7 linked regions of the Homo sapiens genome follow. The protein of the gene in region 1 purifies or fractionates together with the protein of each later gene. This does not show direct contact. Each region holds a gene or a part of one and is shown in the gene's direction. Other genes may lie near its edges. The genes, in order: TRIM66, TRIML1, CRYBG3, THADA, BICRA, PHLDA1 and MCM3AP.

Evidence for each region.
Region 2: the proteins of TRIM66 (region 1) and TRIML1 purify together in Homo sapiens (affinity purification with mass spectrometry, with the first as the bait; one large-scale study listed by BioGRID). This does not show direct contact.
Region 3: the proteins of TRIM66 (region 1) and CRYBG3 purify together in Homo sapiens (affinity purification with mass spectrometry, with the first as the bait; one large-scale study listed by BioGRID). This does not show direct contact.
Region 4: the proteins of TRIM66 (region 1) and THADA purify together in Homo sapiens (affinity purification with mass spectrometry, with the first as the bait; one large-scale study listed by BioGRID). This does not show direct contact.
Region 5: the proteins of TRIM66 (region 1) and BICRA purify together in Homo sapiens (affinity purification with mass spectrometry, with the first as the bait; one large-scale study listed by BioGRID). This does not show direct contact.
Region 6: the proteins of TRIM66 (region 1) and PHLDA1 purify together in Homo sapiens (affinity purification with mass spectrometry, with the first as the bait; one large-scale study listed by BioGRID). This does not show direct contact.
Region 7: the proteins of TRIM66 (region 1) and MCM3AP purify together in Homo sapiens (affinity purification with mass spectrometry, with the first as the bait; one large-scale study listed by BioGRID). This does not show direct contact.

Annotation. Positions count from the first base shown.
Region 1 is NC_000011.10:8,611,540-8,614,102, reverse strand, and holds the end of TRIM66 (tripartite motif-containing protein 66), read left to right. Parts: 3' UTR 1-2,063; downstream 2,064-2,563. UniProt on the Homo sapiens protein: May function as transcription repressor; The repressive effects are mediated, at least in part, by recruitment of deacetylase activity. May play a role as negative regulator of postmeiotic genes acting through CBX3 complex formation and centromere association.
Region 2 is NC_000004.12:188,138,251-188,142,240, forward strand, and holds the start of TRIML1 (probable E3 ubiquitin-protein ligase TRIML1), read left to right. Parts: upstream 1-1,190; 5' UTR 1,191-1,308; coding exon 1,309-1,716; intron 1,717-2,277; coding exon 2,278-2,373; intron 2,374-3,990.
Region 3 is NC_000003.12:97,877,511-97,881,010, forward strand, and holds part of CRYBG3 (very large A-kinase anchor protein), read left to right. Parts: coding exon 1-527; intron 528-2,193; coding exon 2,194-2,238; intron 2,239-2,474; coding exon 2,475-2,590; intron 2,591-3,500.
Region 4 is NC_000002.12:43,230,351-43,233,194, reverse strand, and holds the end of THADA (tRNA (32-2'-O)-methyltransferase regulator THADA), read left to right. Parts: intron 1-312; coding exon 313-482; intron 483-1,851; coding exon 1,852-2,247; 3' UTR 2,248-2,344; downstream 2,345-2,844. UniProt on the Homo sapiens protein: Together with methyltransferase FTSJ1, methylates the 2'-O-ribose of nucleotides at position 32 of the anticodon loop of substrate tRNAs.
Region 5 is NC_000019.10:47,607,894-47,611,933, forward strand, and holds the start of BICRA (BRD4-interacting chromatin-remodeling complex-associated protein), read left to right. Parts: upstream 1-1,240; 5' UTR 1,241-1,275; intron 1,276-4,040. UniProt on the Homo sapiens protein: Component of SWI/SNF chromatin remodeling subcomplex GBAF that carries out key enzymatic activities, changing chromatin structure by altering DNA-histone contacts within a nucleosome in an ATP-dependent manner.
Region 6 is NC_000012.12:76,028,977-76,033,036, reverse strand, and holds the start of PHLDA1 (pleckstrin homology-like domain family A member 1), read left to right. Parts: upstream 1-1,260; 5' UTR 1,261-1,295; coding exon 1,296-2,501; 3' UTR 2,502-2,527; exon of another isoform or gene 2,528-2,543; intron 2,544-2,944; 3' UTR 2,945-4,060. UniProt on the Homo sapiens protein: Seems to be involved in regulation of apoptosis. May be involved in detachment-mediated programmed cell death. May mediate apoptosis during neuronal development. May be involved in regulation of anti-apoptotic effects of IGF1.
Region 7 is NC_000021.9:46,237,623-46,240,611, reverse strand, and holds part of MCM3AP (germinal-center associated nuclear protein), read left to right. Parts: intron 1-2,989.

The DNA of each region.
Region 1 (2,563 bases):
GCCTCCCAAAGTGCTGGGATTACAGGCGTGAGCCACTGCGCCAGGCGTATCCCCTTCAATTTTGCTGAAACTATCAGCCATTCTCCATTTTCGGCATCATCATATTTGCTGCTTCCACCTCCTGGGCTGCTATGCATGACAGATTCACAGTTGGCAGCCTCAGTTGAGCTCTCAGTGTTGACTGGAAATTCTTTAACTTGTTGTGATCCCTTTTTTTTTCCCCACCCATGCCTCCATCTTTGTCCTCCACAAATGACTGAGCTCACTGTCTACTTCACAGAAGACAGCCCCTAAAGCAAGAGCTTCCTTGCCTGCTGTTCCTCTCTCCCCTCTCATTCATCTGTGTCTGTAACTCTCCCCAACCCCTCCATTCTTGCTCCTATTTAATTCTCTATATCTTGAATCCTGTTGTATGTCCTCCAAGACTGCTCCCTCGCTTACTCCACTGCTCCCACTCCCTGGAGTCTCCAGCCTCTGTCTCCACTGGTTACCTCCACACAGCCTGCAAACAAGTTCTCCACAAGATTAAAACAGCATTTCTCAGAGTCTGTTACCCCTTACACATTTTCCTTGTTAACCAAGTTACTTTTAAAAAGATCCTTTTTAAACTGATTCTTCCTCAGCTGTTCTTCAGCCCTCTATACTTTTTCATAAAAGTCACCAGTGACTGCCCAGTTGCCAAATAGAATGAATACCTTTCAGTGCTCAGCTGTCTTGACCTCTCCGCAGCATTTCACACCACCCACCAACCCTCAGTGAAACAACCTCCTCCCTTAGCTTTTATGACACCACAAGTCTCTGGATTCTCAGAGAATCCAGAAAAACAAGTCTCTGGATTCTCTCCTCTTACCTCTCAGCCCACACAGGCTGAGCTGTCCTTGAAACCTAGATGGGGGAAATGTCTGTGGCTGTCTGTGGTCTCTTCTTTTCAGGAGTTGGGTAGGGAGGAAGAATCACAGCTGCTCCTGCTTCCTCTGTCTGTCTCTCTATTTCCTGAGTCCCTTCCTTTTCCTGAACTCAGTTCTCCTCATGCCAACCATGTTTATGAGCTCCTGCTGGGAGGACAGCATCTGTGAGTCCTTCCCTCTGTCTCTCCCAGACAACACAGAGGTTTTAGCCTGTTTGCTAAGAGACCCCATCTAAGTCAGCCCAAGGGTGTGGATTAGGTTTTACAGCATCCAGGCCGCAGTCTGGCTAAACTGGATTACCAGGCTGGTGGGCAGCTCCTCACCATGATCCTGCACCAGTTAGAGCCTGCTGTAGTTGGGAAGGAGCCTGGGATTGTGGTAAGATGTGTTTCCGTGCATGTCAGTGCTGCTAACCAGGAGGAGAACCTGGCAGGGTGGGTGCCTGCTGCTGATAACATTCGGATGGAGGGAGACTAGGGAGCGCGGTGGCTGCTCCCTTGCTGGGGCTCAGCTGGAGTCAGCATGACTCCTTATATCAGGGCCTTTCCCACCTGTGCTGATCACCACCACCTGCTTGCTCCAGTTGTTTCTGGAGTTGGAGGCAGCTATTGGTTGCTTTCTTGGAGGTAAGGAGGTATATACTAGAAAGATATCTGATTTGAGAGTCTGAACACCAAAATTTTTGGCTCTTTCCATTATGAGCTGTGTAACCTTGGATACAGTTTCCTCATCTATAAAGTTGTGGTGGGAGAATGGCTGAGAACAGTGATCTCTCAGCTCTCCAGCTGTAAAGATGTTAATTATGATTTTAACTCTCAAGATCAGGCCACATAAGGAACAGGGGAATTCCAGGGGTGGGACACAGCTGGGGGAGTCCAGACCAGGGCAGGGAAAGGAGACTCACAAGCCAAACAGAGCTGCTTTGGGGAAAGTTCTTATCAGCTGGTGCTGCTTCCTGAGCCATATGCCCATTCCTCAAGCTGTACCCCTTTCTTGGCTATGTAGGATGAGTTCCTCCTAGGCCCTTGTTAGGAGTGGCTATTGGATTCTAAGCGGTTGGGGCATGAGGGAGGATATTTTAAAGGGAAGTATAGCTGATTTTAAAAGAACCTATACATTCAAGAACAAATAAAAAACAGCACTTTTCTTTACCAAGAATTGCGTCCTGGAGTGTTTTTCAGCGAAGATAGTTGAACCTATCACATGGTCTTCTTGCCCCTAGATCTCTACATCATAAGAACTCAAGGTGGGGAAGAATAGCCTGGGAAGCCTTTCTCTCTAGGGAAGAACTCACCTCTCTGCTTTTTCTTCTTCTTATTATTTTTTGTTTTGTTTTTTGAGACGGGAGTCTCACCCTGTCGCCAGGCTGGAGTGCAGTGGCGCGATCTCGGCTCACTGCAACCTCCGCCTTCCAGGTTCAAGCGATCCTCCTGCCTCAGGCTCCCAAGTAGCTGGGACTACAGGTGCGCACCACCACGCCCAGCTAATTTTTTGTATTTTTAGTAGAGGTGGAGTTTCACCATGTTGGCCAGGATGGTCTCAATCTCTTGACCTTGTGATCTGCCCGCCTCAGCCTCCCAAAGTGCTGGAATTACAGGCGTGAGCCACCACGCCCAGCCTGCTTCTTATTTTTATTATTTTTAGTTTTCTTCAGA
Region 2 (3,990 bases), on another chromosome or scaffold:
GATAAGAAAACATCCAACATCCTGTTGGAGGTAAGTGGGAAAGAAGTAGCAGTTGGAGCCTTGAAAGTCAGAAACCAATGAACGGAACAGCCTGAGTAATGGACCCGACTCGTGGAAGGCTGCCAAGCTGGAGAGTGAGGGGACGGAGACAGAAATATGGCGTGATGAGTTCGTGGGAAGGTCAAACTCGCTGGCCTTTGAGGAAGAGCTTTTGAGGTGCAACTTCCTGGCATGCAGTGAGCAGAAGGCAGGCCAGGACAGGAGCTGACTCCCGAGCAGGGGACACAGTGAATTTGTGGCATTTGTTACCAATCTCGGAGTTCACTGTGCACAGTCTCCACACTAGGCATTTACTTTTTCATATGTCCGAAAAAATGTCTGCACACTTCATTTCTGTCCAGTAAGAACTGATAATCAGGGATTTGAAGGGGCCTAGTTTGGAAATTTTCAATGGGTGAAAATAAGTGAGCAAAATTACATTTATACTAAAATATAATTCTTTCCATCTGCTCCATAGTGGGATAGCCTCTTGAGGCAACTTCCAATTAGAATGTCATTTTAGATGCTTTCCAAGATGGCAGATGGGTGAGTACTAGGGTGTGCAGGGAAGATCAATAAACAGCTCTGGCAATTCATCGTGCGCCTAACACCAAGGAATACTTCAGTGGAAGAGCTCTCATTTTGTTGGGATGAATAAAATTAAATAAAAGTACACAGTACCCAATAAAGGAACAAAAGCTTAGGCTTTGGTCAAGCAGAACAAAAGGGGCTAATGAGAAAAGGACTATGTATTACAGTTTTCTTCTCTCAGTTCTCAACTAGGTTTTATTAGTGGAGTTCCCAAAAGATTTGGACCAAATTTCCAATTCAGATATTATTAGAGATCATCAAAACTCAAATCTCTTTACTGGTTTACACCAAATCACCCAAGCTTCCAGCCTAAAACCCACATGCTCACATGGTTCCACAGTGCTGTTTATGTACAATAACCAGTTCTCAAAATGGTAATCCTGTTAGAAGCCAGAATCCTCAGCCTCTAGCATGTGTGCTTTTCACAGAGATAAGTCTCAAAGTTTGGGGTTGGTGAGGAGCCCAGTATACAGGAGTTCCACATTAAGTCATAATTGGCTTTGTGTTGGACAGTGTATGTCAGCTGGTGAAATCAGGCACAGAAGAGATAAGGGTTTCTTGTCATAACAACATAGGAACAGGTCACCCGCGTGTTACTCAAAACTGTAGGACGGCAGTGAGGGCTTTGCTAATCCCAGAACAGAGGTGTAACCTGGCTGCATATCCAGCCTCGAGAAAATGTCTACAGCAGATCTGATGGAGAACCTCAGGGAGGAACTCACCTGTTTCATCTGCTTAGACTATTTCAGCAGCCCAGTGACCACCGAGTGTGGGCACAGCTTTTGTCTGGTGTGTCTCCTCAGGAGCTGGGAGGAACATAACACACCTTTATCTTGTCCTGAGTGCTGGAGGACCTTGGAGGGCCCGCATTTCCAGTCAAACGAGCGTCTGGGGAGGCTGGCCAGCATCGCCAGGCAGCTCCGGTCCCAGGTGCTGCAGAGCGAGGATGAGCAGGGCAGCTACGGGAGGATGCCCACCACTGCCAAGGCGCTCTCCGATGACGAGCAGGGTGGAAGCGCCTTCGTAGCCCAGAGCCATGGTGCAAACAGAGTGCATCTCTCCAGCGAGGCTGAGGAGCATCACAGAGTAAGACAGCTGCTCAGCATGAACCCCACGACTCATCGCAGCTAACTCCGTTAGCTTTCCTGACGTTTCCTAACGTCCTCTGTGGGGGACAGTCACGAGGGCCCATCTGAGCACCACATCACAAACTGGCGTGGGTCCAGTTTACACCCTTTTTTTTCCCTTTTTTTGTTTTTGAGACAGAGTTTTGCTCTGTTGCCCAGGCTGGAGTGCAGCAGTGCGATCTCAGTCACTGCAACCTCCGCCTCCCAGGTTCACGCCATTCTCCTGCCTCAGCCTCCCCAGTAGCTGGGACTACAGTCACCCACCACCACGCCCGGCTAATTTTTTGTATTTTTAATAGAGACGGGGTTTCACCATGTTGGCCAGGCTGGTCTTGAACTCCTGACCTCAGGTGATCCGCCTGCCTCGGCCTCCCAAAGTGCTGGGATTACAGGCGTGAGGCGCCGCACCCAGCCTGCCCTTTGTTTTAGAGGCCTAGGACTGCGCAGTTACTGGTCTTCAAAGCCCCTTCATGACCTGGGACTCTGCTCATTTGCCAGAAAGGGTTTGTTTCTATTGCAGGAGAAACTCCAGGAAATCCTGAATCTTTTGCGTGTAAGGAGAAAGGAAGCTCAGGCTGTACTAACCCATGAGAAGGAGAGAGTGAAACTGTGCCAGGTCGGTGTCTGTCTGACTTTTGCTGCTTGTATATGACCCCATAAGGGGGACTAAAGGGAAATTTAGTGAAATATCAGGAAAAAAAAAAGACAAATTTTTCCAGTCTCACCTCTAAAATATGCAGTTTCCTTGCATTGGGCTGCCTTCTTCTGAGCGTCCTCGTGGGAGTCTCAAGGCTCAGCTGCAATTCGCCCCCTCTAGGAGCCTCCTTTGCATAACTAGACAACGCTGTGGCTTCCTCTATGATGGCTCTGGTAGAATTATTTAAAACACAAGTGATACTTATAGACATGTAACATGAGACGGAAAGCGATTTTAAAAAGAAATATCTCAAAAACATGGAGGGGAAAATGCAAATTAAAAAAAATAAAGAGACAGAGATATAAAAGCAAAATAGTGGTTTAAATGATACCTGACAAGTCCTCAAGGTTGGTCACGGACTTGGATTTGAGCTCTCCAGCAGTCAAAGCAAAGGACTAAATATCAAATTATATATTTTTTAAAACCATGTATCTGATTCTCCCAATAGACTTTGAAATCTGTTTTTTTTTTTTTTTTTTTGGAGATGGAGTCTCTCTCTGTCGCCCAGGCTGGAGTGCAGTGGCGCGATCCCGGCTCACTGCAACCTCCACCTCCCGGGTTCAAGTGATTCTCCTGCCTCAGCCTTCTGAGTAGCTGGGATTACAGACGTGTGCCACCATGCCCAGCTAATTTTGTATATTTGTGGAGATGGGGTTTTACCATGTTAGCCAGGCTGATCTCGAACTCCCGACCTCAGGTAATCCACCTGTCTCGGTCTCCCAAAGTGCTGGGATTACAGGTGTGAGCCACCGTGCTTGGCCGTAGACTTTGAATTCTTAAGTGAGAGTATTTGCCATGTATGTTTCTGTTCCTTTTTGGTTATCTGACACCTACTTTCATTGAATAAATATTTGTTGAATAAATGAACACACATTTTTCATAATTTTTCTTAATTTTGTTTTATTTGTATCATAGTCCTGATCACTACTTGTCATATTTCTTACTCATTTTTGGTTTTCTCCACTAGAACGACCGCCTCCTGGGAATGGAGATTTTGGTTTTGTTTACTATTGTATCTATAGCGCACATACCTCCGAAAACATCAACCTCTACACCCAGCGCATCAACAGATTAAATGTATTATATGTTGGATTTCAGGAATTGTTGCCATGAAACTCTAGGACTTGGCCAGGCATGGTGGCCCACACCTGTAATCCCAGCACTTTGGGAGGCTGAGGAGGGTGGGTCACCCGGTCAAGAGACTTGAGACAATCCTGACCAACATGGTGAAACCCCATCTTTACTAAAAATACAAAAATTAGCTGGGCGTGGTGGCACACTCCTAGACTATAGTCCCAGCTACTCAGGAGGCTGAGGCAGGAGAATCATTTGAACTCAGGAGGCAGAGGTTGCAGTGAGCCGAGATTGCGCCACTGCACTTCAGACTGGCGACAGAGTGAGACTCCATCTCAAAAAAAAAAAAAAAAAGAAAGAAAGAAACTCTAGGACTTGTAAGGATTAAAAATCTACAGACAAGGGCATTTCTCTTACTAACTTTATCTCGTGTGTGTGTGTGTGTGTGTGTGTGTGTGTGTG
Region 3 (3,500 bases), on another chromosome or scaffold:
GTCACCATGGCCCCAGGAAATCAAGAGACAGTGAAAACCAGTCCTCTTCTGTTTTATCCCTTCTCCAGTCAGTGTCAGAACGTTTAAAGATGAATTTTGATGAAGATGACAGAGAGGCAGCTGATGAGGAAGAAGAGGAGGAGGAGGCAGCAGTATTGCATAAAGGAGATCTGAGAGCTGGAAGTGGGGAGCGTGTTACCTTCCAGTTGCCAGATCCTTCCATCACATTTTACCCTGATGACCAGGAGAGCGTTGGAATTTCTAAGAATTCATATGTGATGCCAAATGAACCTACTACCTCCAATCTGCAAGTTGGTCTGTGGCCAGAAAAGACCTCGTTTCTCCAGAAATCTGACCTTACTTCTAAACTACATTCTTCTTTAAAGAGTGCTTATCATCAGTATCTGCAGACTTCCCAAAGTCATTCCTCAGAAAAAGGAGCCAGATTTGGTGGAATTTTTCAGGAACCAGTGTCAAAATATTTCCGTGTTCAAGACAGCCCAGGCAGATTGAGCCCATTTATAGAGGTAAGTTATTTTGTTTATTGTATTAATAATAGTTATTAAAGCTTTGGGTCACGAAATTATCTAAAGGCTTATTAAGAAAAGTCAATGTTTTGGCCAAGCATGGTGGCTCATGCCTGTAATCCTGGCACTTTGGGAGGCCGAGGCAGGTGGATCACGAGGTCAGGAGTTCAAGACCAGCCTGGCCAAGATGGTGAAACCTTGTCTCTACTAAAAATAAAAAATAATTAGCCGGGCATGGTGGCGGGCGCCTGTAATCCTAGCTACTGGGGAGGCTGAGGCAGAGAATGGCTTGAACCTGGGAGGTAGAGGTTGCAGTGAGCCAAGATCGCACCAGTGCACTCCAGTCTGGGCTATAGAGTGAGACTCCGTCTCAAACAAACAAAGCAAAAAAGAAAATGTTTTGAGGTTGTAGAAGTTGTATAAAGTTTGTTTCATAAAAATATCAGATTCTTTGGTTGAAATATATCATAACTCATGTATTTTAGCTGGACTACTTAGAAAAAAAAATTGCTTGGTCAGAATTTAAAAAGCATAATACTGAAGCAAGGTTATTTTGAAGTCTTTTGCTAATATTTTTCAAACTAAATTAAGTGACAACATTCCAAATTTCTCAAGGTACTGTATGTGGGAAAATTGTCACTTTGCATTTAGCTTATTAGTTTCATGAAAAATCTTTCTGTTAAGTAAAATTTTTAAGTATTTGACAGCAGCCTCGCACTACAACAACTCATGTTGTTCATGCAACGCAGGGCAGTGAGCAACCTAAATCAAACAAAAGAACTGAAAACTTTATAGCTGGAAAATGTTTTAAATTCAATTACAGTTTTCTTTGATTTAGAAATATTTAAATATTTAATGTAGAATGCTTATTAAATATGGGACTTTCCTTTCTGGCATTTCCAAGATCATGGTACTTTCAAGATAAAGATACAGGATGTCCAAGGCCTGTATTTTTACCTTAAACAATCTTCATGGCAAATAGTAATACTCAAAGACCAACCAAAACCTTGCAAAGCAAAGTCATTTTAAAAGAAATGATAGGATTTGAAGAAATATTTCTTTCATGGTTCTCCACTGCCTACCAAATCAAGTGGCACCTCTTAACTCTGCATTATAAGGCTCCCAAGTTCTGTTTTGCCAGCCTTGTCTCCCCACACTCTGGGTGCACACTCTGTGTTTCCTACCAGTACACTTTTCCCCAGGATGGTTCTCTTCCTAGAATTTCTTTATTCACTATCCCATCACAACCTGCCACATTTTCCACTCACTGAAATATTGTTTTTCAAGGTCCCTCAATACTACTTCCTCAGAAATGCCTCTTTGAACCTCTGTATGCCCTCACCTCCATGCTGGTGCCATTTCCATAACCTAGTGTTTTCCTTGTATTTTACCTGTGAATGTAACTTAGTCCCCTGGCTTAGTAGAGCTATGCAAATATGATCATCTGTTTGACCCATTCTAAGCTATGTACTTCTTGAGGGCAGAGACAATGTGTTAATTTCCTATATATTTGTATTTATATCACTTGTATCGAGAGAAGCACCTTGCTCATAATGATCACTAACTAAATATGTGATAAATTGGATACAAGACTGCTAAGAAAATGAATTATGCATCTTTTCACCGATGTTTCTTAAAGCTTACTTTTCCACTTTTATTATTTCAGAATGTTGACAAACAAACTCTGAGATGTAACCCAAGACCTGGGAAGGTAAGGATAACTTTCTCAAACTAAGATAAAGGTTAAACATTAGGTAACTTTCAGGCTTGAGGAATTTAATATAAGTGACTTAGATAATGATTTTATTCAAGGATTTAACATCTAAAGTAACATTTGCTTTTGTATATTTAGGATATTTATTTCTATGTTCTAGGACATTTTAGAATTTAAAATACATTCTAAAAATTAGTTATTGTAACTACTTACTGCTATTTACTGTGTTGCAGATGGTTATCTATGATCTCCATGAAAGTACATATAAACAAGAAGTCTACTGTAATATTCCTGATGCTACATCATGGTCTTTTCCAAATGGAGTTCTAATAAAAGTTGTAAGGGGCTGGTAAGAAGTTTCTTAAAATTTTATAGCATATTTTCTTAAATTAAATGTGTCTTCTTGCTGTTAATGCTTTTTTTTCTATTTTTTATTGAAGTCATATTCTCCTTCCTCTACTTTTCGACAGAAGATTTTGAAACATTATTATTAGTGTGTTATAACTTAATTGTTCTTTTTATTTACTATGGCATAAAATACAATCTGTTTTTAGTGCTTAAGCCAGTAAGTTGCAAGACCTAATCTATACAATCAATACCATTCTGTAACTACATTATTAGCAGGATAGATTTGGCAAGTTTGGGTGAATGCTTCAGTTGAATGAAGCATAGCTTTGAAAATGAGTTCAGAATTTGTGGGATGCTGAGGAATGTGAAGGCCACATAGTTAAAGTTGTTTGTATAGCTGACTTGCTCAAGAAGTGAAGGAATCTTTGTATGGTCTAAAAATGAGGGGCAACCCTATCTATTTATTATGGACCATGACCCATGGACATGCTGGAGCCAGAATTTATCTGTCCAGTGTTTAGGCTACCCAGGTCAGCATTCATGTCTTAAATCATATGGTGTAATCTCGTCTTCATATAATAAAATGGGACATGTGTCCTGTGTTATTCAGCAACAAGAAAATTAGAAGTATAATTTGGAATTGTTGCACTATTGTTTTTTATGCAACTGTATAGTTTCGTATAGACCACATCTATAAAGAGCATACATACATAAATATAGACATAGAAATATATTGTGGTACTATGTTCAGAAAGTATTTTTATTTCCAAGGTATATGCACTTTTATTTTTTCTTTACTGTTCGCCTGTACTTAAATTAGCATATATCATTGTTTCAAAAAATAGGGTTATATGCTAATAGTGGAAGATATCCCAGCTTAAAAAATTTAAGTAGACAAAATGGTCTGTGAC
Region 4 (2,844 bases), on another chromosome or scaffold:
GATCCTTCTGGTGACACTGGAGGAGCAGAGGGGAGATAACTCTCTAATCCTGCAGATGGAACTGCTTCTGTCCACACTGAGTTAGGGGGCATGGAAACAGTGGGTTCAGGCCTATGACTCATTCTAACAGTATAAATAGCAGGATTCAGAAGGTGATTAATCGTCTCCAGTGAGCCCACCCTACCAGCTTCCCTGCCAGGCTGGTGGCAGCGATTTTACCTGAGGCCTTTATTGTTCCCAGGGTCCTGCAGGCTGCCCTGGGGTCGGCCCTGAGCAGTATATTCATTGCTCACCTTTCTCCTGTCTTTGCAGAGTTTGCCTTCTGCCAGGTGGATGCCTCCATCGCTCTGGCCCTGGCCCTGGCCGTCCTGTGTGATCTGCTCCAGCAGTGGGACCAGTTGGCCCCTGGACTGCCCATCCTGCTGGGATGGCTGTTGGGAGAGAGTGATGACCTCGTGGCCTGTGTGGAGAGCATGCATCAGGTGATCCCGGGGTGTCAGGGGAGTAGGAGGCAGGGTTGGAGTGTCCTAAACCCGCTAGATGCAGCACCTACAGCCTCAGCTGGGCTTTTGCATGCTTAGACACAGAGCAGGAACCACTAGGAAAGTCACCCACTGGGTGCTGCCGAGGACACGGGGACACTCTTAGGCTGACTTCTGGGGTGCTGATGGTCAGCCTCCAGCTTAGCCAGGGGAGAGAACTCGGAAAGAAGCCCCTGGCCGGGCACAGCGGCTCATGCTTGTAATCCCAGCACTTTGGGAGGCCAAGGCAGGCGGATCATGAGGTCAGGAGATCGAGACCATCCTGGCTAACACGGTGAAACCCCGTCTCTACTAAAAATACAAAAAATTAGCCGGGCATGGTGGTGGGTGCCTGTAGTCCCAGCTACTCGGGAGGCTGAGGCAGGAGAATGGCGTGAACCTGGGAGGCGGAGGTTGCAGTGAGCCGAGATTGCACCACTGCACTCCAGCCTGGGCAACAGAGCAAGACTCCATCTCAAAAAAAAAAGAAAAGAAAAGAAAAGAAAAAAAGAAGCCCCTGGATGCGGAGAGTTTTATTATGGAGACTGCTTGTTAGTCAGTATTGGAGTTAGCCTGGGGCTTCCCAAAGTTAGGTCTGAGGGTGAAGCATTTTCAGAGAATTAGGATCTTTGCTGGGAACTTCCTGCTTGAAGAAAACTATTATTAGCCCCCTCCAGGGTGGGTGCAGTCACAGATAGGGAAACTGAGGACAAAGACAAGCAGCAAAAGCATCCTGAGAACTGAAATTGATCGCCACCAGCATCTGACTCAGCTGGCCTTCTTGGCATCCCCAGCAGGCCAAGGGTTCAAAACGCATTGTCCCTCTTTATGAGAAATTTGGAGACATGGTAAGTGTCTGACAAAAGGACCTTGAGAATCACAGTGTTATAGAAACAGGACACAGCCTAGTGTCCTGTGTTTGGAGATTCCTTCCTCTCTGGCCTGCTGCAGAGATGACCTTTCCTCCCTCCTCTCCAATTTCCAGCTGCACCTTAAACTCTAGAGCCCACTCCCTTGTTGAAGTCCCCTTTTCAGCATCCATCCCCCAAAGTATCTTGACTTTGAACCACAAACACATCTTTATCCAAGGTCATGTTAAGTCTGGGGAAAAAATTCCTCTCTGGTGGAGAAATACAGTGAGTGAAAATAGAAGGTGACCTTCAAGGCTGCAAGTGGTGTGTGTACATGGATGTTGACAGGCAAGAGTGCACCCTCTGTCAGGTGGGGGAAGGGAAACCCCTCTTGCATCTGGCAGGGTACTGCTTGGTCTGGACTGGGGCTTGTCACCATTCCCTGTAAGACTGACTTTCGGCTTTTTCATCTGATTTAGGTGGAAGAAGACTACCTGTTTGAAAAAGCAGAAGTCAACTTTTGGGCCGAGACCCTGATCTTTGTGAAATACCTCTGCAAGCACCTCTTCTGTCTCCTCTCAAAGTCCGGCTGGCGTCCCCCAAGCCCTGAGATGCTCTGTCACCTTCAAAGGATGGTGTCAGAGCAGTGCCACCTCCTGTCTCAGTTCTTCAGAGAGCTTCCACCAGCTGCTGAGTTTGTGAAGACAGTGGAGTTCACAAGACTACGCATTCAAGAGGAAAGGACTTTGGCTTGCTTGAGGCTGCTGGCCTTTTTGGAAGGAAAGGAAGGGGAAGACACCCTAGTTCTCAGTGTTTGGGACTCTTATGCAGAATCGAGGCAGTTAACTCTTCCAAGAACAGAAGCGGCATGTTGAAGAAAATCTGGGGGATTGGGATGGGGGTATGTGTGGATTTTTCCTCCACTAAATCTGCAGGAAACATGTTGAACATAAATTCAAAAATTTTATCCCATTCATGCCTCCCCTACTTCTGTGAGTCCAGTCGTCTGTCACTCCTTACAGAGAAACTTTTCTTCAGTTCACTCATTCAGGGCAGCCTATTTTATTGCTGCTACTGTAGGAAGTGAGGCGACTCCGTTGCAGATTTACTCTGTCCCCAGGTGCAGGCCACCTGCAGGCCTGAATGAGCCTTTTTCATCCCCCAGGGCCTCTAATGCCCTGCCATAGCCGCCCTGCATTCTCTGTGAAATGACTACAGAGAGTTGGATTTTAGCACATACACATGATCCCTCCCCTCTCCCCTTTTCTGGCTTTATGTAGGGGCTGGATTAGTTGGCAAACAGCCCATTTGGTCAGATTTGTGAATTTTGTTCCATTTTAGCAAAGCAGAAATATGTTCCAAATGTTGGATCCTGGGAGAATTCAGGATCAACTTTGCACAAATAATTTATTTTTATTGTCTGCATGTGTTAAGTCCTGCAGTGACCTACACATTCCATCCTAATTATTCAA
Region 5 (4,040 bases), on another chromosome or scaffold:
CATTTATTCAACCCGCATTCACCTACTGTGTGCACGAGCTTTTCTAGGGCACTGGGGAGGCAGAAGGGACTAAAACAAAGTATAAATCTCCCTGGGCTGCAAGCATCGGGAGGGCAGGTCCGGGGGCTCTGTGTCCCCACTGGGCCCCCAGCACTGCGCAGCGCACACAGTGGGCGCTCACCAAGCGCTCGCTAAGGGCAACGCGTGAATCCGTGTCCCGCCAGCAGGGCGTTTACGGCCTGGTGGGGCGGAAACGGACCCGACACCACCGCGGCGTCCTGGGGCTTCTGGGAATCCCATCAGCGCGGCCAGAGCGGCCGGGGACAGGCTCCGAGGCAGGCCCGACCCGCCTCCCCGGCGCCGCCGTGGCTCGACGGAGACCAGCTAGGGTGAGTGATCGAGCCACGCCTGGGGTCCCGGCCTGTCACCCCGAAGTCCCCGCCGCCTTCCACCCTGTCAGGCTCCAACTCTGGGCTCCGGCGCGGTCCCACCTCCGGGGGGAACTCCCCTCCATCCCCTCCATTTCCTTCATCCTCGACTCCCGCTATCTTTTCGGACCTGCGGCGCTCCCCCTGGACGCGTCCTCCCGCCGGACGACCGTCCTCCGCCTCAGGGGACGCGCCCAGGACGCACGGCGCCCCCTCCCCAGCCGGACCGGCGGTCTGGGAGCGCGGATCCCTTCAGCTCCCCCGCGCCCCAGCATCCGGATCAGGGCTCGAGGCAGTCGACAAACTACACCCGAGCTCGAGCAGGCGCGCCCCTGAACCCCCGGGACTGGGGCTGGGGGCGGGGGCGGCGCCGGCGCGGAGGGCCCAGTCCCCGGACGTCCGCAGCCTCCCATTGGCTCCGGGTCCCGCCGCTCGGCCTGGCGGGGCCGGGGCTGGTCCGCCCGGACGCGGGGCGGGGATTCCTGAAGCCCCTCCTCCGGCGAGGGCGGAGGGAAGAGGAGGAGGAGGAGGAGGAGGAAGGGGGTGGGGGGCGGAACACAAAACCTGAGAGGTTTTTTTTTTTTTTTTTCCGTTTGCATTTAATTAAAAAAAATTTTTTTTTTTTTTGCATACCCGAGGGGCGCTCCCCGGAACGGGCGCGGGCCCGGGGCGCGCGGGCCTGGGCGCGGGGCGGCGGCGGGGGCCCGGCAGCGGCTGCCGAGCGGCCGCCATGCGATCAGGCAGTGCGCTGACCGGCCCGGCCGGCCGGCCCCTTCTGGGTCCTCCCTTTGCAGCCCGTGCGGGGCCGTCTCGGAGACCCCGCGCCGACGGCTGCTCAAACATCAGGGTGAGTTTCTCACAATGTAGCAATTTCTCTTTAAATCTCTTAACTCTCTCTACCTGCGAGTCGGGGCTGTGACAGGGCGCAAAAGCGAGGGGGGAGTGGGGGTTGGCGGCGAGGGTGTGTGTGGGGGGAGCCGGAGCCGGGGCCGAACCCACCCCCGCGACACTCTCACACTCAGCCCCCCAGCCGGGGCGCAGCGCCCGCTGCCTCCTTTTTTTTTTTTTTTTTTTTTTCCTGCTCGGCGCCCACCGCCACCGGCACCCCCAGCCCCGCGTCTCTTCCACCACCGCCGCCGCCCCGATCCTATGGGGACCCCCCCCCAACCGGCTTCCCTGCCCAGACCCGGCGCCCAGTGCCTCCCCGGCCCTCCCGCCGGCTGCCGGGGATACAATGGAGCGGCGGAGAGAGGAGACCTAACGTTCCACGGGGGGAGGGGCGCGGAGACCCCCTCCCCGTCCCGGCCCCCTCCCCTCGCCCCGCTCCCCGCCTTTCGGGGAAGGCGAAGGCCACCGGGCAGCGGGCGGTGATCTCCCGGCCGGAGGCGGAGAGCCTGCATCTCCCCGCCTCGCTCGGCCCCTGCGCCCCCTCCCCAAATCCCTCCCGTGGGTGTCGCGGACAGTGGGGGGCCCTGGAAAGCTGGGGAGGGATGGATGGGGAAGGAGGCCACCGGGGCTCCCCCCTTCGCACCGCCCCTAAACAATGAAAGGAGTTGACTTGACCCCCAGCCCCCGGCAATAGAGGGAGGTGACCCCCTCCCCCACCCCCAGCTGAGGCTCATCCCGGAGGGGGCCGTTACGGGGGTGGGGGGGGTGAGCGCCTCCTGTCACTTCCCGAGGTTCGGGGCGGCCCCCCATCTCCTACCCCTCGGCCTGGGAACGGGAGGCACCAGGCCCGGCCGGGGCACCGCGCTCGGGTGGTGACCTTTAGACAAAGGCAGCCCTTTCCCCGGGGTGAGCCCGGACGAGCTGGGCCTGCGGCCTCCCCGGGCCCCTGCGGAGGGCAGCCAGGCCGCGGGCACCCGGAGGGAGGGATGGAGGAGGAGGGAGGAGGGATGGAGCCATCTGGTTTTCCCATCCCTGGCTGCCCCTCGTCTGCTTCCCCGACTCCTGTCACGGGCGGCCGCGGGGAGACGAGGGACCAGGGGCTGCTTGGGCCTTGGTGCGCGGCCAGCCGGGAGGACCGGGCAAGGAGCCGCGGGAGAGCTAGGCTCGGGCTCGGGCGCCGGCGGTGATTGGGAGGCACTGCGGCTTCTTCCTCTCCGCGCCCCTTTGTTTTGCTTTGTGGTTCTGAGCAGCTGAACTTCCCGGGAGGTGGGGTCAGAGGCCGCGGTGTCAGCTCTCCCGGGGAGGCCCAGGTGACAGGTCCTAGCTCTCTGGTGTCCCCATCCTGGTGGGCTGCAGTCTGTGCCCAGGCCCATGTCCTGACCATCGTCCCCTTTTGTCACCCCCCCCCCACACACACACCTACCTACCCACCCCATAGTATAATACAGATCTAGGGGTGCCTTTCTCTTACACCTCTTTACGGAGGGCACTTGAAAGGGAAACTAGAAACATCCAAGGCATCAAGGCCTGAGATTCATGATAAGCTCTCTGTGCTTTTAACCTCTCCCAGCACCTGGGGTGGGTGTGGGGGGTATTGTCAACTCTGACCTGCCCTGGGTCATGAGAAAATGGGAAGACAACTCAGGAAGCACCCCCTTCCCATGCACTGGTAGGACTTTTGGGACATGTTGACCTCCCTTGCCTTCCCTCATAGCTCCCCGCTCAAGATGGAAATATTAATAACAATATCAAACTAGGGAGCTTTATTCCGCTGCTGCTAAGTACATTACACGCTGGCCACAGTCCAAGGAGGAAATAGAGACGGGACAGACATTCCCGTTTTCCAGACAGGTTCATGGAGGCTCAGAGAGGTTAAGAAGCTTGCCCAGGGTCACACAGCCCTGGGTCACACAGAGCCCCAATTTGTAACCTCCTGGAGTTTTTCCAGCTTGGCTCAAAACTGTTAAGCCCTTCTTCTGTCCCACCCTTTGGCATTTTGTCCCCCTGACTTCAGTGGACCTGGTTCGGAAATGTAGATAATATTTAGAAGAAGCGGCCAGATTTTTTTTTTCCCTGGGAGCTGGTTTTGAGAAGGGGTAAGATGCACCTCGAAGTTGGGCTGAGGGCAGGATCATTTCACTTGTGGCTGGAATGGAGAATTGTCTGCAGGAACTGAGAACTGAAGGTGTGTGAGGAGTGGGGGAGGGGGAGCCCCAGGCCTGGCCAGTGATGGGCTCGGGGTACCTGGGAGCTGGCCCCACTGTCATCTTCTCCCTTCTCTACCTGAGCGGGGGACTTGGCCCCATTTGCTGCTACTCAGCCCTGAAGTAGAGAAGAGAGAAGCTGAACTGTTTGGGAATGTTGATGTCTGGTTGTTCCTATGCCCTGTGACCCGCTGTCGCTTTGCCACACCATGGCCCTTTGATGCAGCTAGCGGAGAACTTTCTTGCCTGTTCTCCTTGGCATGATCCACTCTGTAACCTTAGGCAGGTCATTTAACTGCTGGTCCTGTTTTCTCATCTGCAAGTGGGGGTAATTATAGTTCCTTTAAGTGACCTGGAGGTGGGTAAAAGTATTATCCAAACGTGTCATTCATATTTATCATTCAGCAGGCCGGGTACGCAGTGTGGGCACAGGGGAGGAATGTCAACTGGTGGCATTTAATTTTTTTTTTTTTTTGAGACAGAGTCTCGCTGTGTTGCCCAGGCTGGAGTGCAATGGCCT
Region 6 (4,060 bases), on another chromosome or scaffold:
CTTAGATGAATATTCAGGACGCCCTCGTGTATAAAAGTTGTCCTTTGTTCTGACTACCTTGGTATTAAGTTCGAATTTCTTACCATGACACACAAAGGATTCGATTCTTGCTTAGCTCTCTAAGCTCCTCTCACTTTCTCTTCCCCTCTTGAATTCTTTGCTCTTGCCACACAACTAGCAGATGAACTAATCTATCTGTTCCAACGTGGGCACAGTAGCAGCCGTAACTCTTACCTTGGCCCACTCTGACTTGTCCAGCCCTGGTTGAATTCTTCGTATCCCCGTGAGGGTCCGCACGTAGTTGGGGCTGTTTACTAAACGGATGAACTTCCCTACCGGGAGGCTAGGTCTCGGTTATGCCTTACTTCCCAGGAAGCGGCTTCTATAGGCATTGTTTAAATGTAGGAGTAGGAGGGAGCTGGGGGTATTGCATTCCCCAGGTCACAGATAAATGAGATTCCAAAACCAAGATCTGGCTAGGCCTTGGAAAGAGGGACCTGCGAGGCCGACCAGACGTTTGGAACTGCGCCTTGCAGTGTGGGATCTCAGCACCGGATATTACCCCGGTTTGTAGAGAGTTGAGTTACTGTTTTAAGAGACGTTGCAAACCGTACGGGTCAAGAAGAAAGCCGAAGACGGGTTAGCGCCTGCGGTCGGGGTCGAGAAAAGCAGGCGAGATGCGACCTGACGTGGGTCCGCCTCTCTCCACCCGTGGCAAGCCCGACAGTCGCACTATTGCTTTAACAATCGCCCTCTTTCCAAGAAGAGCTACTTAGTGACCGTGAGCGAATATGCGTGGGAAGACACGATGTCCTCTCGGCCTCTGTGCGCTCAGTTGTTTACCTAGGCGTCCGGGGGAGGCACACTCGCGGGACTCGCGGGACTCGGCCCCGGCCTCCCAGCTCGCCCAGGACACGACGCTGGTTCTGCGGGCTCTCGGAGCCCAGCGCGAATCCCCCGGGCTAATTCCCAAGAACCGAGAGGCAGCACTGCCTGGAGGCTGCCCCCGCCTCCGCGCCCCCGTCCTCACTTTCTGAGGCTGTTAGCAGAGAGTCCCGCGGGCCGGGGAGAAGCGGGACGCGGGGGATGGCCTCGCAGCGCCCTGTGAGCGTCGGCAGTAGTCAGGCAGCCAGGGCTCCTTGGGCGATCGCCCTGGGTAGAGGAGAGGAGTTTCCGGGGCTCGGGTCCGGGTCGCCTTCCAGGGGAACGAGCGCGGAAGCAAGTGGGCGGCGAGAGGCGGAGCAAGAGACGCTGGAGGGCGTGGACGCAGCGGGCTTTGGAAAGGCCCCAAGTTAATGAGGCGTGCGCCGGCTGCCGAGCGCCTCTTGGAGCTGGGCTTTCCCCCGCGGTGCGGGCGCCAGGAGCCGCCTTTTCCGCTGGGTGTCACTCGGGGGTGGGGAAGATGGCCCATTCAAAAGCGCCGCGAGGGGGCCCGGCCAGTGCCCTTCAGTGAGCGCTCGCAAGAGGACGGCAGAGGCCCGGCAGCTCGGAGCTCCGGGACCTTGTGGCGCATCAGGACGCGGCTGTCCCTCTGCCGGGACCCAGAGCCGCCGCCGCCGCTCTGCCTCCTGCGTGTTAGCCTCCTCTGCGCGCTCCGGGCAGGCGGCCGTGGGAGCCGCTGGGGCGAGGACGGCGCGAGGCTGCTGCTGCTGCCCCCGGCCCGCGCGGCTGGAAACGGAGAGGCCGAGCCAAGCGGCGGCCCCTCTTATGCTGGGAGGATGCTGGAGAGTAGCGGCTGCAAAGCGCTGAAGGAGGGCGTGCTGGAGAAGCGCAGCGACGGGTTGTTGCAGCTCTGGAAGAAAAAGTGTTGCATCCTCACCGAGGAAGGGCTGCTGCTTATCCCGCCCAAGCAGCTGCAACACCAGCAGCAGCAGCAGCAACAGCAGCAGCAGCAGCAGCAACAACAGCCCGGGCAGGGGCCGGCCGAGCCGTCCCAACCCAGTGGCCCCGCTGTCGCCAGCCTCGAGCCGCCGGTCAAGCTCAAGGAACTGCACTTCTCCAACATGAAGACCGTGGACTGTGTGGAGCGCAAGGGCAAGTACATGTACTTCACTGTGGTGATGGCAGAGGGCAAGGAGATCGACTTTCGGTGCCCGCAAGACCAGGGCTGGAACGCCGAGATCACGCTGCAGATGGTGCAGTACAAGAATCGTCAGGCCATCCTGGCGGTCAAATCCACGCGGCAGAAGCAGCAGCACCTGGTCCAGCAGCAGCCCCCCTCGCAGCCGCAGCCGCAGCCGCAGCTCCAGCCCCAACCCCAGCCTCAGCCTCAGCCGCAACCCCAGCCCCAATCACAACCCCAGCCTCAGCCCCAACCCAAGCCTCAGCCCCAGCAGCTCCACCCGTATCCGCATCCACATCCACATCCACACTCTCATCCTCACTCGCACCCACACCCTCACCCGCACCCGCATCCGCACCAAATACCGCACCCACACCCACAGCCGCACTCGCAGCCGCACGGGCACCGGCTTCTCCGCAGCACCTCCAACTCTGCCTGAAAGGGGCAGCTCCCGGGCAAGACAAGGTAAGGTCCCGGCACTCGCGCTCCCGAGGAGTGGGTCTCGGGGGTAGTGAGTTGGGAGGAGTAGGAAGCTTGTTCACAGGTTCGGCTCCTGTATGGAGAAATCAAAACTCATACCAAGTTTCTGGGGCAATGGAAGAAACAGAAACAAGCTGGGGCCAGGAGAGCTGGGCAGAGAGGGGAGGCTGGGGAGATCCGGGCCAGGCAGGGGGCCTCGCGGACCGCGCCCGCGCCCGCGCCCATCACGACCGTCCTTGTCCCGTGGTGCGTCCCCCAGCCCCACTTGACTATATGTTTGGGCAGTTGAGGGAAACACCACGGTGTCTTTCTGAGCCCGCTTTGTCAGGCGGACTGGCCCGAACAGAACTGGTCTCGGAGGGTTCTTAGCCACCTACTTCACTCGGTGTCATTTCTTTCCAGGTTTTGAGGACTTGAGGAAGTGGGACGAGCACATTTCTATTGTCTTCACTTGGATCAAAAGCAAAACAGTCTCTCCGCCCCGCACCAGATCAAGTAGTTTGGACATCACCCTACTGAAAACTTGCGATTCTTCTTAGTTTTCTGCATACTTTTCATCACGATGCAGGAAACGATTTCGAGTCAAGAAGACTTTTATTTATGAACCTTTGAAAGGATCGTCTTGTATGGTGAATTTTCTAGGAGCGATGATGTACTGTAATTTTATTTTAATGTATTTTGATTTATGATTATTTATTAGTTTTTTTTTAAATGCTTGTTCTAAGACATTTCTGAATGTAGACCATTTTCCAAAAAGGAAACTTTATTTTCAAAAACCTAATCCGTAGTAATTCCTAATCTTGGAGAATAAAAAAGGGCGGTGGAGGGGAAAACATTAAGAATTTATTCATTATTTCTCGAGTACTTTCAGAAAGTCTGACACTTTCATTGTTGTGCCAGCTGGTTGAAATTAAAACTCTGATATTACTTTTTTTGAGGATTTTTATTTTTGTTTTTGCTTAAACATATAGTTTGTCTAGAAGTTTAAAAAGCTAAAAGTTAAAAATGGTGTAATTATGAAAATCTAACACTCAAGATAGTTTCTAAAAGGAAATCAGTAGTTAAGGATACCTGATTTCAAAATATTTAAAGCATAACCTAACTGATGGTAGGATGATTGTATCTTGAATATGTGGTAGGGCCACATCTATTGTAGGAAAACCTTGCTTTTATCATCTGTGTGTAAAGGGCTTAATAAGGAGAAGAGGCCTTTTGACTGATTTGTGAGTATAAATGCATTTGCTGTTTCATTTCAAAAATGTTGTGGAGGAAAAGAGTACATTTAACTTGTATAAGAGAATATTTGTACTCCTGTCCAGGCTGCAGGACCTTTCTTCGAGAGCTTTGCACACTTGACTTGAACCACATTTTCTGATCCCTTTACTTTGTTTTAGAAGCACACTGAAAAATCTCGTTGTTTAAAGTACAATTTGTAAATATTTCAAAGGTCTAGGAGTCATAACTTTTGTTTTCATACTGAAAATGATGTTGATCAGAGAAACCAACTGTTTTGCTTTT
Region 7 (2,989 bases), on another chromosome or scaffold:
TATATTGAAGTGAATTTCATTTATTATTTATTATTGAAAGTCAGTGTTAAGTTTTTCTGGGAAATTCATGTGGTTAAGTCTGCTCAGAAGATGGTGAGTGCTGAACACTATGGCTGGCCACAGGCACCCTGCCCTTGGGAGCCTGAGGCATTGGTGGATCATCCCATGCTGTGAATGGACAGGAGCTGGGGCTGCCCCTCCTCTACATTGCCCACTTCCCTCCCTCCCATGCATACCTTTCCTTTGCTTTCATTTGATGGCCATGTTTACCATTTTACTGAGTAGAATCAGGAATAAGGGACCTTCCACAGGTTGTCCTCTGCCTTCCCTGCCCTCCCAGCCACATCCAGCATCCTCCCTATATCCCCTTCCTGACGCCTCTTGTTGCTGGAAACGAACCATGCAGCTCGTAGTCAGTCAGCCCTTCCCTGGGCTGGGATCTCATCTCCCACCTACCCAAGGACATTCATTCAATGAGTATCTCTCTCGTGCTACCACCCCTCCCCATATTAGGTGGTGCCCATCAGCAGCACACAGACATGAAACATGCCTCCCTGTCTTGGTCCCACTTCCCTCTTTAGCCACCACTTCATGTTTCTGCCCTCTTAATGGTAAAACTCCTCAAAAACGCTTGTGATACTCACTTCTTCAGCCTTCTTTCCCATGGGGATGAAGGCCCAGGGTTGAACATGACCGTGAATCCCAGTCCTTGGTAGCATCCCATACTTGATCCTCCCCTCCTTGCTCCTAGGATGTCCGTGGTCCCCCTCCTGCCCTGCTGGTTCCTCCTCATCCCCCAGCTGCCCCCTGGATTCATTCTCTCAACCTCTCCTCTGCATCGTCTGTACCTACTCCTCAGAAATTTCATCCAGTTTCATGGATTTTTAAGTAACATCACTATTCTGACAGCTCCAAATTTGTATCTCAAACCTCTGAACTCCACACTTGAACATGCTACTGCTTCCTTGAAATCTTCATTAGACACCTATTGGATGTCTGGTAGCCACTGCAAAGTTAACATATCCCAAATCCAGTTCCCGGCTTTCTTCCAACCAACCCCTTCCTTTGGTGGTCATCTCTGTTGATGGCGGCTCCATCCTTCCAGCTGCCTAGATCAGGTGCCTTGGAATCATCCCCTCACATCAGCCCATTCACATATCCTATTGGCTCTATTGAAAATACATTCAGAATTGGACCACTTGTTATGACTTCCATGGCCACCACGTGGCTCAAGCCACTATCATCTTCCTTCTGGATTATTACAGTAGGCTGCAGTTTAGTCTTGGTAGACCTGGTGGGTGCCTTTCAAGTGAGTTAAGATGGAGGTCGTGTCACTTGCTTGCTTACAGCCTCTCAGTGGTTTCCCTCTTTCACCTGCAATCAAAGGCAAACTTTGCAGGGGTGGCCAGGGCCCTGAGTGATCTGCCCCCCATTTCCTCTCTGACCTCCGCTCCTTCCTTGAGCATGGTAGGCAGTTCACAGTTGGGCCTCTGAGTTTGCTGTTCCTTTTGCCTAGGACTGTCCAGCCCCTCCATTCTCCCCAGCATCCCCATGGCTGATCTTGTACTCACTTCAGATCTCTACTCAAATGTCTGCTTCTGTTAGGCCCTGCTTGCCCATCTCCGACCTTCTTGTTTCCATGGCTCTGCTTTGTCTTTCTCATCTTCAAACCATGTTTCTCTTGTTATGTGTTCCTTGTCTGTCTCTCCTCACTAAAGTATAAATTGCTTAGGGCAGGGCCTCTGTTTTGTTTCAGTGCAATATTCCTTGTACCTAGAATGATGCCTAGCATCTGGAGGAGGCTTAATGAATATGTTTTGGAAGGGTGAATGAATGTGTCCGATTACTAAAATCAGTCTCTATAATTTAAGTGGTTTGGGATGAGATTTTTTTTTCCTTTTTATTAGATAGAGTCTCGCTCTGTTGCCCAGGCTAGAGTGCAGTGGCACAATCTCGACTCACTGCAACCTCCACCTCCCAGGTTCAAGCAGTTCTCCTGCCCCAGCCTCCCAAGTAGCTGGGACTACAGGTACCCATCACCATGCCTGGCTGATTTTTGTATTTTTAGTAGAGACGCAGTTTCACCATGTTGGCCAGGCTGGTCTTGAACTCCTGACCTCAGGTGATCCACCTGCCTTGGCCTCCCAAAGTGCTGGGATTACAGGCATGAGCCACTGCACCTGGCCAAGATTGTTTTTCTTGAAAAGACCGGTATATGGAAGTAGACAGCTCTAGAGTATGTTAGGTGGCAGTGGGATATTATTTTGAGTTAATTTTAAGCTATAAGCAGCAATCCACTCATTTGGAAAATGTCAGAAGAATTAATTATAGATGCATAAAACCAAAGTAAATTAAATAAGATAAGCCAAACAAGACAATTACAAGTAATGTTAAGTAACACATCGAAGCAGTTGTTTTTGGATTAATACCACCTTTTTCATTAAATATAAATTGGAATTGGATTTATAAATTAAAGGGAAGTGGTTTCTCTAATTTTTTTTTTTTTTTTTTTGAGATGGAGTTTTGCTCTTGTTGCCCTGGCTGGAGTGCAATGGCGTGATCTGGCTCACTGCAACCTCCGCCTCCCGGGTTCAGGCAGTTCTCCTGCCTCAGCCTCCCAAGTAGCTGGGATTACAGGCACGTGTCACCATGCCTGGCTAATTTTTGTATTTTTAGTAGAGACGGGGTTTCACCATGTTGATCAGGCTGATCTTGAACTCCTGACCTCAGGTGATCTGCCCGCCTCGGCCTCCCAAAGTGTTGGGATTACAGGCATGAGCCACCGAGCCCAGCCTAGTTTTTTTTTTTAAATTAAGCTTTATCATAGGAAGTTGTTAAATTTTTAATAAGTACATTTCTGCTTCTCAGTTGATGTCATAACTTAGTTATATTCTTAGTAAAAAGCAAAGGCTTAAGGCTGGGTGTGGTGACTCATGCCTATAATCCCAGCACTTTGGGAGGCTGAGGTGTGCACATCACTTGAGTTCAG